2 separate regions of the Homo sapiens genome follow, and region 2 is linked to region 1. The links come from fine-mapping of genetic effects on gene expression. A gene starts in region 1. The other region holds a variant in brackets. All regions are shown on one strand. Distances are between the middles of the regions.

The links. PIP is the estimated chance that this variant, and not a neighbour inherited with it, causes the effect. A credible set is the group of variants that fine-mapping cannot tell apart.
Region 2: its variant is the best candidate, but not a certain one, in a credible set for the expression of PUM1 in whole blood (TOPMed, PIP 0.52).

What each region holds. Positions count from the first base shown.
Region 1 is chr1:31,063,671-31,069,046 of GRCh38, forward strand. PUM1 (pumilio RNA binding family member 1) reads right to left here and starts at 2,047. Exons shown (of 22, transcript NM_001020658.2): 1 at 1,946-2,047. RefSeq lists enhancers at 1,704-2,023, 1,891-2,805 and a silencer at 2,134-2,353.
Region 2 is chr1:31,122,030-31,127,405 of GRCh38, forward strand. No RefSeq gene overlaps it. Among named protein-coding and RNA genes, the nearest start is that of PUM1, 59 kb to the left of the region's middle. RefSeq lists an enhancer at 157-658. The variant T/A (reference allele first, on the strand shown) is at 2,203.

The DNA.
Region 1 (5,376 bases):
AGTTTATCACTGACGCACACTAAACACACCTTCATTCTAAAAGGAATGGGGGAAAGAAAAGACTCCTATAAAAATGTTCAAACGAAACAATTGGCTTTTGTAAAGCTATCTGTATGCCCTAAGACTTCCTGCTTTACCTAAAGAGGCAAGGCAGTTTCTCAAACCAGAGAAAACCTGGCAGAACAGTTTCAAAGTGAGCAAATACCTAAGCAATTAACATGTTATCTTGGGTAGTTTTGTGGTATTTTGGCAAATACGGCACAAAAATTAAAAACTCAGTATCCTAAATATCAGAAAAGCTCACTAATACGTGTAGCATTTAAAATGTGATTTTTTTACAAATGACACCTTATAAGTACTTTAAGCAACTAGAAGTGCTCAGTCCAGCTACTCTTTCACAGCTTTCAAATGTTTACAAAGTTTTTTAAAATATCACTAATTGAGTTGAATTCAAAGGAACACGGTTTACTTTATTTCCATGGCTCACCTTTTACTAAAATGCTTAGTGGTTTAAAAGGTGTTTATTTTTACCACACTTAACAAACATTCTGTGGTCATAAATTTATCTTAAAACAGTTCATTTTAAACCTAAACTAAACAAATTCCAACTTCAAAAAGCTGTGGCCTTGAACAAAATGAATTCAATTGTCGCTAAAGCAAAACACTAACTCAAAGTTCAGAATCCGGAGAGCGTTTCCCAAGAGCCCAGATAAAGAATCAACAGCCCCCCAGTGTTTTATAAAGTTAAAATTAGCAAAGGGTCAAAATGTTTATTTTGCTTACGAAAACTGCATCGGAAGCCACATTTCTTGGGGTTGGGCCTGTCTTAGTAAGTTTTTAGGTGCTTTCAAGAAACAAAATGCTAAGCCTATTGTTTCAGAAGTTAACTGACTTTAAAACAGAACCCAGGAAAAGCTTCATAAAATCTTATTCTTAATTAATCCCAGTAATAACAGGAATTGAGCAAAATGGTATCGAGGGCTGAGAACAGTGTTTTCTTAATTGAACAATAAAAGGTAACAATCTAAGTTACGGGAGAATAAAGCCTTCTCTGGTAATGCTGTGTGTGGGTTTCTGGCTTTGTTTTTTCAGCGGGGGGGGGGGGGGGGGCTATAGGAGGGAAAAGTTACAGGAGTGTATTCCTCACTTGACGTGGGAATGGTACTGACAAGTAAAACAAATGATCTATGTTTACCAAGCATGTTTGTGAGGACTAAAACTAGTATTGTGTATCTAGATTTTCCTACTAGCAAGGGGTGAACCCCTCTTTGAGTGAAGAGAGACACCAACACCGGGAGGCTCAAAAAGGAAGAACCCACCAAAAACACAAGCTCACACGGAAACAAAAGGCCACAGCAACCCAGGAGCCTAAAAAGCATTCTGAAACTTCCTGATCGCCACTTCTCCACATTTAAGGCTCGCAAAGTTCCCCCACGGTGAATCTCGCCTGTGGACAAGGGCCACGGCTGCTTCTAAAGCGATTTATTGTTCCTCCTCCTCCGGCGCTGCCACGGAAGCTCAAGAAGTCGAAGAAATCGGGGTGGCACAGAATTACACTTCATGGCCACACAGAAGACTCGGGGCTTCGCAAACCCATCAAAAAAAGCAACCCGAATGGCAACATCAATCTTCGGTGGTTCCCAACAGGGCCAGGCAAAAATGTAGAGGCACGTCTACGCCCTGGGCTCGGGCCTAAACCCCCAGCATTTTCCTAGCTTCGACCCCGCTCCCCACCCCCTCCCTCCTTTGATAACAATAGGGGCCTTGCTGCTGACTCCAAAACATGTACGAGGAACAGCGAGTGAGAAGCCTCAGCCAGGGCCCCGGCGGCTTTTCCAAAGCCCTTCTCACCCCCACAACCACTCTCAAACACCAATATGAAGGGACAATCTGCTCGTTAGGGGTCCGGAGCAGCGTTTGGGGCCGGTGGGGTGCGGATACTCACGGGCGGAGCGGTAGGATGAAGATGGATTTCAGCCCCCCGATCTTCTCTCTCTGGCGCTCTCGCTCCCCCTTACCTTTCACTCCGACAACATGGCGGCCCACTGGGGACTGGGTTGGCGCGGTGCATCCTGGGATAGGCTCCGGCCCCGGCCCCGGCGGTGGCAGCGGCATGTGCGGAGAAGGCTGGCGGCTCTGGAACAGGTTGCCTGGTTGCCATGCCAACCCAGGGCCTGTGTGAACTCGGGAAACTCGCAGGCAACACAAACGCTGCGCGCGAGTGCCCGCCCGCTAGGCGAGCGCGCGCCGCCAGGGCCGAAGGCGGGGTCCCGCCGGCCCGCACCTGGGAGAACACGGCCTGGAGCTGGGCACGCGGGGTTGCGCCGGTGACGCTCCACCGAGTCTCGGACGCGCTCCTCGCGCCCGCCGCGCCCTCGGAAGCTTGCCCCCGAGCACCACAGCTAGCAGGGTTCGCGGACGGCCACCCGCACTGCCCTGGCCCCAGAGGTGCAGGGTTCAAACCCCTTCTCTGCAGCTTTCTAGCTCTGCGGCCTTATTTAAATCGACCTGCCTCCATTTCCACATTTGTACAATGAAGAAGAAAATAACCCCCACTTAACAGAATGGCCTGGAGGATTAAGTGGAATAATGTATGTTAAGTGCTTTTAGTCTTACTGTCTCAAACTAAACTCAAAATAGATTGAAGGCCGGGCGCGGTGGCTCACGCCTGTAATCCCTGGACTTTGGGAGGCTGAGGCGGGCGGATCATGAGGTCAGGAGATCGAGACCATCCTGGCTAACATGGTGAAACCCTGTCTCTACTAAAAATACAAAAAAATTAGCCGGGCGTGGTGGCGGGCACCTGTAGTCCCAGCTACTCGGGAGGCTGAGGCAGGAGAATGGCCTGAACCTGGGAGGCGGAGCTTGCAGTGAGCAGAGATCGCGCCACTGCACTTGAGCCTGGGCGACACGGAGAGGCTCCGTCTCAAAAAAAAAAAAAAAATAGATTGAAAACAGACAAATCGCAATACTGTAAAAGACCAGAAGAAGATATGGGGAGAAGCTCTATAATTGGAGGAGGGAAAATGTTTATACTCATGAATCAAAGTCAAAAGATCATAAAAGAAAATATTGAAAGAAATATAAACATCTGTACGAGAAGAGATGCCATCAACAAAGTAGAACAAATGGATAAAAAATATTTGCAGTACACGGCCAGGCGCGATGGCTCATGCCTGTAATCCCAGCACTTTGGGAGGCCGAGGCGGGTGGATCATGAGGTCAAGAGATCAAGACCATCCTGGCCAACATGGTGAAACCCCGTCTCTACTAAAAATACAAAAAAATTAGCCGGGAGTGGTGGCGGGCGCCTGTGGTCCCAGCTACTGGGGAGGCTGAGGCAGGAGAATCACTTGAACCCAGGAGGCAGAGGTTGCAGTGAGCCAATATTGTGCCACTGCACTCCAGCCTGATGACAGAGCAAGACTCCGTCTCAAGAAAAAAAATATATATATATACACATATATGTATATATACATATATACATATATATACACATATATACATATATACACATATATACATATATACATATATACACATATATACATATATAAACATATATATACGTATATATACATATATATATATTTGCAATACACATGATAAGGAAATGGTTGATCATCATGATAAATGCAAAATTTCTCCCATCAGGGTCCTGGTGGGGTGGCTCACACCTGTAATCCCAGCACTTTGGGAGGCAGAGGTGGTAGAATTGGTTGAGGCCAGCAGTTTGAGACCAGGCTGGGCAACATAGTGAGGCCTCGTCTCTACAAAAAGTTAAAAATTATCTGGGCATGGTGGCACACATCTGTAGTCCTAGCTACTTGGGAGCTAAAGCAGGAGAATTCCCTTGAGCCCAGGAATTGAGCTGCAATGAGCTATGATTGGGCCACTACATTCCAGCCTAGGAGACAGAAAGAGGCCCTGTATCAAATAAATAAATAAATAAAATCTGTAATCAATTTCTAAAAATCCGAAATGGGCTGGGCGCAGCGGCTCATGCCTGCAATCTGAACACTTTGGGAGGCCGAGGCAGGCAGATCACTTGAGGTCAGGAGTTCGAGACCAGCCTGGCCAACATGGTGAAACCCCATCTCTACTAAAACTACAAAAATTAGCCGAGCGTGGTTATGGGCGCCTGTAATCCCAGTTACTCTGGAGGCCGAGGCAAGAGAATCGCTTGAACCCAGGAGGTGGAGGTTGCAGTGAGCTGAGATGAAGCACTGCCTGGGAAACAGAATGAGATTCCATGTCAAAAGGAAAGAAATAAATCCAAAATAAAATAAATCCAAAATAAACAAACATAACAAAATCACATACAGCCAAGAAACATAAAAGTAGCCTGGGGTTGAGGGATGAAAGAGCAGAAATGGGAAGGTACTGCTAATGGGTATGGGGTCTCCTTTTGGAGTGTTGAAAACCTTTTAAAATTAGAGTGCGATGACGGTTGCAAAACTGTGAGTATACCATAAACCACCAAAGTAGACACTTTATGATTTAAATGGTGAATTTGTATTTTACTTTTGTTTTTCGAGACAGGGTCTCCCAGGTTAGAGTGCAGTGGTGTAACCATGGCTCACTTGTAGGCTTGAACTCCAGGGCCCAAGCGATCCTCTCACCTTGGCCTCCTAAGAAGTTGGAACTTCAGCCATGCACCAACACACTTAGCTAATTTTTTTGTTTTTGTTTTTGTTTTGAGATGAGTTCACCCTGTGTTGCCCAGGCTGGTAAATTAGTGAATTTTAGGCCGTGTATGGTGGCTCATGCCTGTAATCCCAAAACTTTGGGAGGCTGAAGCAGGCTGATGACTGGAGGTCAGGAGTTCAAGACCAGCCTGGCCAACATGGTGAAACCTCATCTCTACTAAGAATACAAAAATTAGCTGGGCGTAGTGTCAGGTGCCTGTAATACCAGCTACTTGGGAGACTGAGGCAGGAGAATCACTTGAACACGGAAGGCAGAGGTTGCAGTGAGTAGAGATTGCACCATTGCACTCCAGCCTGGGTGACAAGAGCCAGACTCCGCCTCAAAAAAATAAAATAAAATAAAATAAAATAGTGAGTTTTATGGTATATGAAATATATATCGGCCGGGCACGGTGACTCATGCCCGTAATCCCAGCAATTTGGGAGGCCGAGGCAAGCGGATCATGAGGTCCTGAGATCGAGAACATCCTGACCAACATGGTGAAACCCTGTCTCTACTAAAAATACAAAAATTAGCTGGGCGTGGTGGTGTGCACTTGTAGTCCCAGCTACTTGGGAGGCTGAGGCAGGAGAATCACTTGAGACTGGGAGGCGGAGGTTGCAGTGTGACGAGATCTCGACACTGGATTCCAGCCTGGCGACAGAGCAAGTTTCCGTCTCAAAAAAA
Region 2 (5,376 bases), 58 kb after region 1:
CAACCAACTCCACTTAAAATCTAAGGATTTCATTCTAAGAAAATTATACCCCTGTTAAAAGATGTTAAAAAGTGGAGGAGCATGATTATAGATGACAAGTAAGTGTGCAAGTGAGTTAAAAGACTTACCAACTCTGCCCATCCCCCCTCCAAAAAAGGCATGCAAATTAGCAAGTGAAGATGAGAAAGAGCTGGGTGAGCAGGCCAGGCAGGCCAAAACTCTCCTCCCGGTCTGCCTGGAGGCAGCCTGATTTTCTCTCCAGCACAGATGTCTCTAAGCAGCTGCTGATCACAGTGAGCCTGGGGGCCCTAGGCTCTGGCAAGTACACTCTGTTGTCCAGCATCATCGCACTCCAGCTAAAATGTGTCTCCAGCAGGCAACTGCTCCAAGACCACGTGCTGAAGGAACTAGACGTCGGTGTTCAGTGGAGATGTTCATTGTTGGGTGGGTATGGTGGCTCATGCCTGTAATCCCAGCAACTTTGGGAGGCTGAGGTGGGAGGACCTCTTGAGCCCAGGAATTGGAGGCCAACTTGGGCAACATAGCGAGACCCCATCTCTATGAAAAATTTAAAATTAGCCAGGCATGGTGTTGTGTGCTTGTAGTCCCAGGAGGAAACAGGAGGATCACTTGAGCCCAGGAGGTCAAGGCTGCAGTGAGCTGTGATTGCACCACTGCACTCCAGCCTGGTTAACAGAGACCCTGTCTCAAAACAAAAGAGCAAAAAAACAAAAAAAAAGCCTTCCATTGTCCATGGGATGCTCCACAATGTGATGCAGCTGAAAAGCCGCACCTACTAGAGCGGCTAATGGATGAGGTTTATCTGACAGGCACAATATTCAACCCCAGCCTGCCTTCGAAGACTGCTAAGCACAGCATTCCCACTCCCTGGATCCCTGGAGCCAGTGCTGTGTGTGTCGTGCTGAATTCGACCCTCCACAGCCTATTGGTAACTGTGCTCTGACCGAAGTCTGTTGCCAAGAGACCAAAGCTTGGGAAGCCCCGAGGAACGCTGTTTTGCAATATTAATAGGAAAAAAAAGGTCAGAAACATTCTCCTGAACATAAACCAAGAAGATCTACCCCCATTTACACCATTTCCTACAAAGAAAAAGAAAGTGGCACAAATAAACCAGCCAGAAAGCAGCAGTTACTTCCAGATAAAAAAGGGATAATTAGTAAGATGAGCAGAACCTCCTTTCCCTGCCATTCAGATTCTGGGCCTAAGAATCTAGCAGACAGAAATACTTTTAGATTATATTTCCATTTCACTTCCACTAATTTTGATCTGGATACCAAAAGATGTGCAAAATAGCCCAATAGTAAGATTTAGTTTTTAGGCTGGGCACAGTGGCTCACGCCTGTAATTCCAACACTTTGGGAGGCCAAGGCAGGCAGATAGCATGAGGTCAGGAGTTCGAGACCAGCCGGGACAACATGGTGAAACCCTGTCTCTACTAAAAATACAAAAAAAAAGAAAGAAGAAAAAAGTTAGCCCGGTGTGGTGGTGCACACTTGTAATCCCAGCTACTCCGGAGGCTGAGGCAGGAGAATTACTTGAACCGGGAGGCAGAGGTTGCAGTGAGCCGAGATCGCACCACTGCGCTTTAGCCTGGGTGACAGAGCGAAACTCTGTCTCAAAAAACAAAAACAAAAACAAAAAACCATCAAGTGACATTTAGAAAAAAAAATTTTTTTTTGGTTTTTATGTTTTATTTCATTTTTTGAGACAGGGTCTTGTGCTATCATCCAGGCTGAAGTGCAGTGGTGCGATCATAGCTCACTGCAGCCTCTTAACTCTTGGGCTCAAGGGATCCTCTCACCTCAGCCTCCCAAGTAGCTGGAATTATAGGTGTGTGCCATCAAGCCTGATTAATTTTTTAAATTTTTTTGTAGAGATGGAATCTCCCTGTGTTGCCCAGGTTGGTCTCGAACTCCTGACTCAAGCAATCCGTTCACCTTGGCCTCCGAAAGTGCCGGGATTACAGGGACAAGCCACCATGCCTGACCAAAAATATTATTTTTAAATGGCTTGCTTTTATTTTTCTTTTAAAAGTACGTATGTTTTGAGTGTTATAATTTATGCTAGAATTTGACACCATGATAAGAGTGCTTGAACAAGCACCAAATTTGCTTTTTTTTTTTTTTTTTTTTTTCAGACAGTCTGGCTCTTTCGCCCAGGTGGAACTGCAGTGGCGCTATC[T/A]CGGCTCACTGCAAGCTCCGCCTCCCGGGTTCACACCATTCTCCTGCCTTAGCCTCCCGAGTAGCTGGGATTACAGGCGCCCGCTACCGCGCCCGGCTAATTTTTTGTATTTTTAGTAGAGACGGGGTTTCACCGTGTTAGCCAAGATGGTCTCGATCTCCTGACCTTGTGATCCACCCGCCTCGGCCTCCTAAAGTGCTGGGATTACAGGCGTGAGCCACAGCGCCCGGCCCTAATTTTTTTTTTCTTTTTTATTTTTGAGAAAAGATTTCACTGTCACCCAGGCTGGAGACAGTGGCACGATTTCAGCTTACTGCAACCACGACCTTCTGGGCTCAGGTGATCCTCTCACCTCAGCCTCCTGAGTAGCTGGGACTACAGGTGTGTGCCACCACGCCTGGCTAATGTTTGTATTTTTTTAAGAAATGGGGTTTTGCCACATTGCCCAGGCTGGTCTTGAACTCCTGGGCTCAAGTGATCTGCCTGCCTCAGCCTCCCAAAGTGCTAGGATTACAGGTATGAGCCACCACACCCAGCCTCTTTAATTTTTTTCTAGGGAAAAGCTGAATTAGATCACATGTTTTCAGAGGTTTCTCAGTTTAAGGAATTTGTGTGTTGGCCAGGCGCGGTGGCTCACACCTGTAATCCCAGTGCTTTGGGAGGCAGAGGCAGGCGGATTACCTGAGATCAGGAGTTCGAGACCAACCTGGACAGCATGATGAAACACCATCTCTACTAAAAATACAAAAATTAGCTGGGTGTGGTGGCACACATCTGTAATCCCAGCTTTCGGGAGGCTGAGGCAGGAGAATCGCTTGAACTGGGAGGCAGAGGTTGCGGTGAGCTGAGATTGTGCCACTACTGCACTCCAGCCTGGGCGACAGAGCGAGACTCCATCTCAAAAAAAAAAAAAAGAAAAGAAAAGAAAAGAAAAGAAAAAAGAAATGTGTGTGTTGGCAGGGTGCGGTGGCTCGCTCACTCCAGCACTTCGGGAGGCCGAGGTGGGCGGATCACCTGAGGTCAGGGGTTTAAGACCAGCCTGGCCAACATGGCAAAACCCCGTCTCTACTAAAAATACAAAAATTAGCCGGCCGAGGTGGCGGGCACCTGTAATCCCAGCTATTCAGGAGGCTGAGGCAGGACAATCACTTGAACCTGTGAGGCGGAGGTTGCAGTGAGCTGAGATCATGCCGCTGCACTCCAGCCTGTGTGATAGAGCGAGACTCCGTCTCAAAAAAAAAAAAAAAAAGAAAGAAATGTGTGTGTTGCAATCCACTTCCCAGTTTTTCTTTTTTCTGCCCAAATATGCCTTAATGGGTAACAAATCAGAGCACAGTAAAAGGAACAAAAGATAACCCATCGCACTGTGCACATCAAGCCTTCTTTGTCATTAGGAAATAGAAATACATTGAGCATATCTGGATTAAAATATCTCTTGCACTCATAATTAGTAAACAAGAATAGCAACAAAGAGACCACACGTAGTTAGGTCCCAGGTTAAGGAGGTATTGGAAAATAAGTTAGTTTGCTGGAGAATGATCATTAAGTTCTTTGTTCCTGGTGAAAGTCGTTGAAACTGGCTAGCTTTCAGGCTCTCCCATCTCAGGGCTATTGAGTATAATCTGAGCAGCCATTCTGTAATCATTATGGGACTTGGATTCCTGAGTGAGGTAAAGAGGATGTGCATTTATGATGGTCAGACTTGGGGCGGGATAGGTTAGGGAGCTGTGAGCTGTGTAGCAGAGATGGAGGGGCCACTCAGTTATGTGCAAAATTACACATTTCACGCTGAGATTATTGTGCTAAATCAAATGACTGTTCATATGGCGAATGTTATTAACTGCCTTTGAAAGTGTGTTCCACCTCCTAATACTTTAAACATTTTAATACACTGTCAGTCTTTCATCACGGACAAGACTCTCTGCTTGTTCTTGGCAGACGAAAAAAGAAAATGGACAAGGCCTTTAATAGGATTACAACTACATTTTACTCTCCACATTTCCTTCTTTATTAAACTTTCTATATGCCACAATTTTAACATTGATATCAGCCGGGTGCAGTGGCTCACGCCTGTAATCCTAGCACTTTGGGAGGCTGAGGCAGGTGGATTACCTGAGGTCAGGAGTTCGAGACCAGCCTGGCCAACATGGTGAAATCTCATCTCTACAGAAAATACAAAATTAGCCAGGCATGGTGGCGCATGCCTGTAATCCCAGCTACTTGGGGGGCTGAGGCAGGAGAATCACTTGAACCGAGGAGGCGGAGGTTGCAGTGAGCCAAGATCGTGCCACTGCACTCCAGCCTAGACAACAAGAGTGAAACTTTGTCTCAAAAACAAAACAAAACAAAACAAAAAAATTTGATATCTTGTGCTTTTCAAAGTTGTTATGAGATGTTAGACTAAATGATCCATCACTAGGCTCTGAAACATTCTTTATTGCTTTATTATAATATAATTAAATTGTGGCCAGGCACGGTGGCTCACACCTGTAATCCCAGCACTTTGGGAGGCCAAGGCGGGCAGATCATGTGAGGTCAGGAGTTTGAGACTAGCCTGGCCAATATGGTGAAACCCCATCTCCACTAAAAATATAAAAATTAGCCAGCATGGTGGCAGGTGCCTGTAATCCCAGCTACTCAGGGGGCTGAGGCAGGAGAATCGCTTGAACCTGGGAGACAGAGGTTGCAGTAAGCCGAGATCGTGCCATTGCACTCCAGCCTGGATGACAAGAGTGGAACTCCATCTCAAAATAATAATAATAATGATAATAGTAAAATTGCAGGAAAAAATGTAGTACTAAGAAATTGACCCAGAAGGAAAAGGGAAGGAAAAGGAAAAGAGGGAGAAAATAAGAAATAGGGAGGCCATTCTGAGAGCATCTAACATACAGTCCAGGAGTTGAGAATGGGGTGGATGGCAAATACTTTAAGAAATAAGATCTGAGGATTTTTCCAGAATAGAAGAAAGACATGAGCCTTCAGATTAAAAGTACCTAAATACTGAGTAGCTTCAATAAAAATAAGTCATCAAACACATCAAACTGATAGCTGTGGTAGCCTCTAAAAGGGTTGGGATTGGTTTGATGCTCATAGGAGATCTTTGCCTTAGCTGTAATGCATACATTTTTTATAAGGAGACTGGATCGGTGCGTCTCACATGCAGTCAGGAACTAT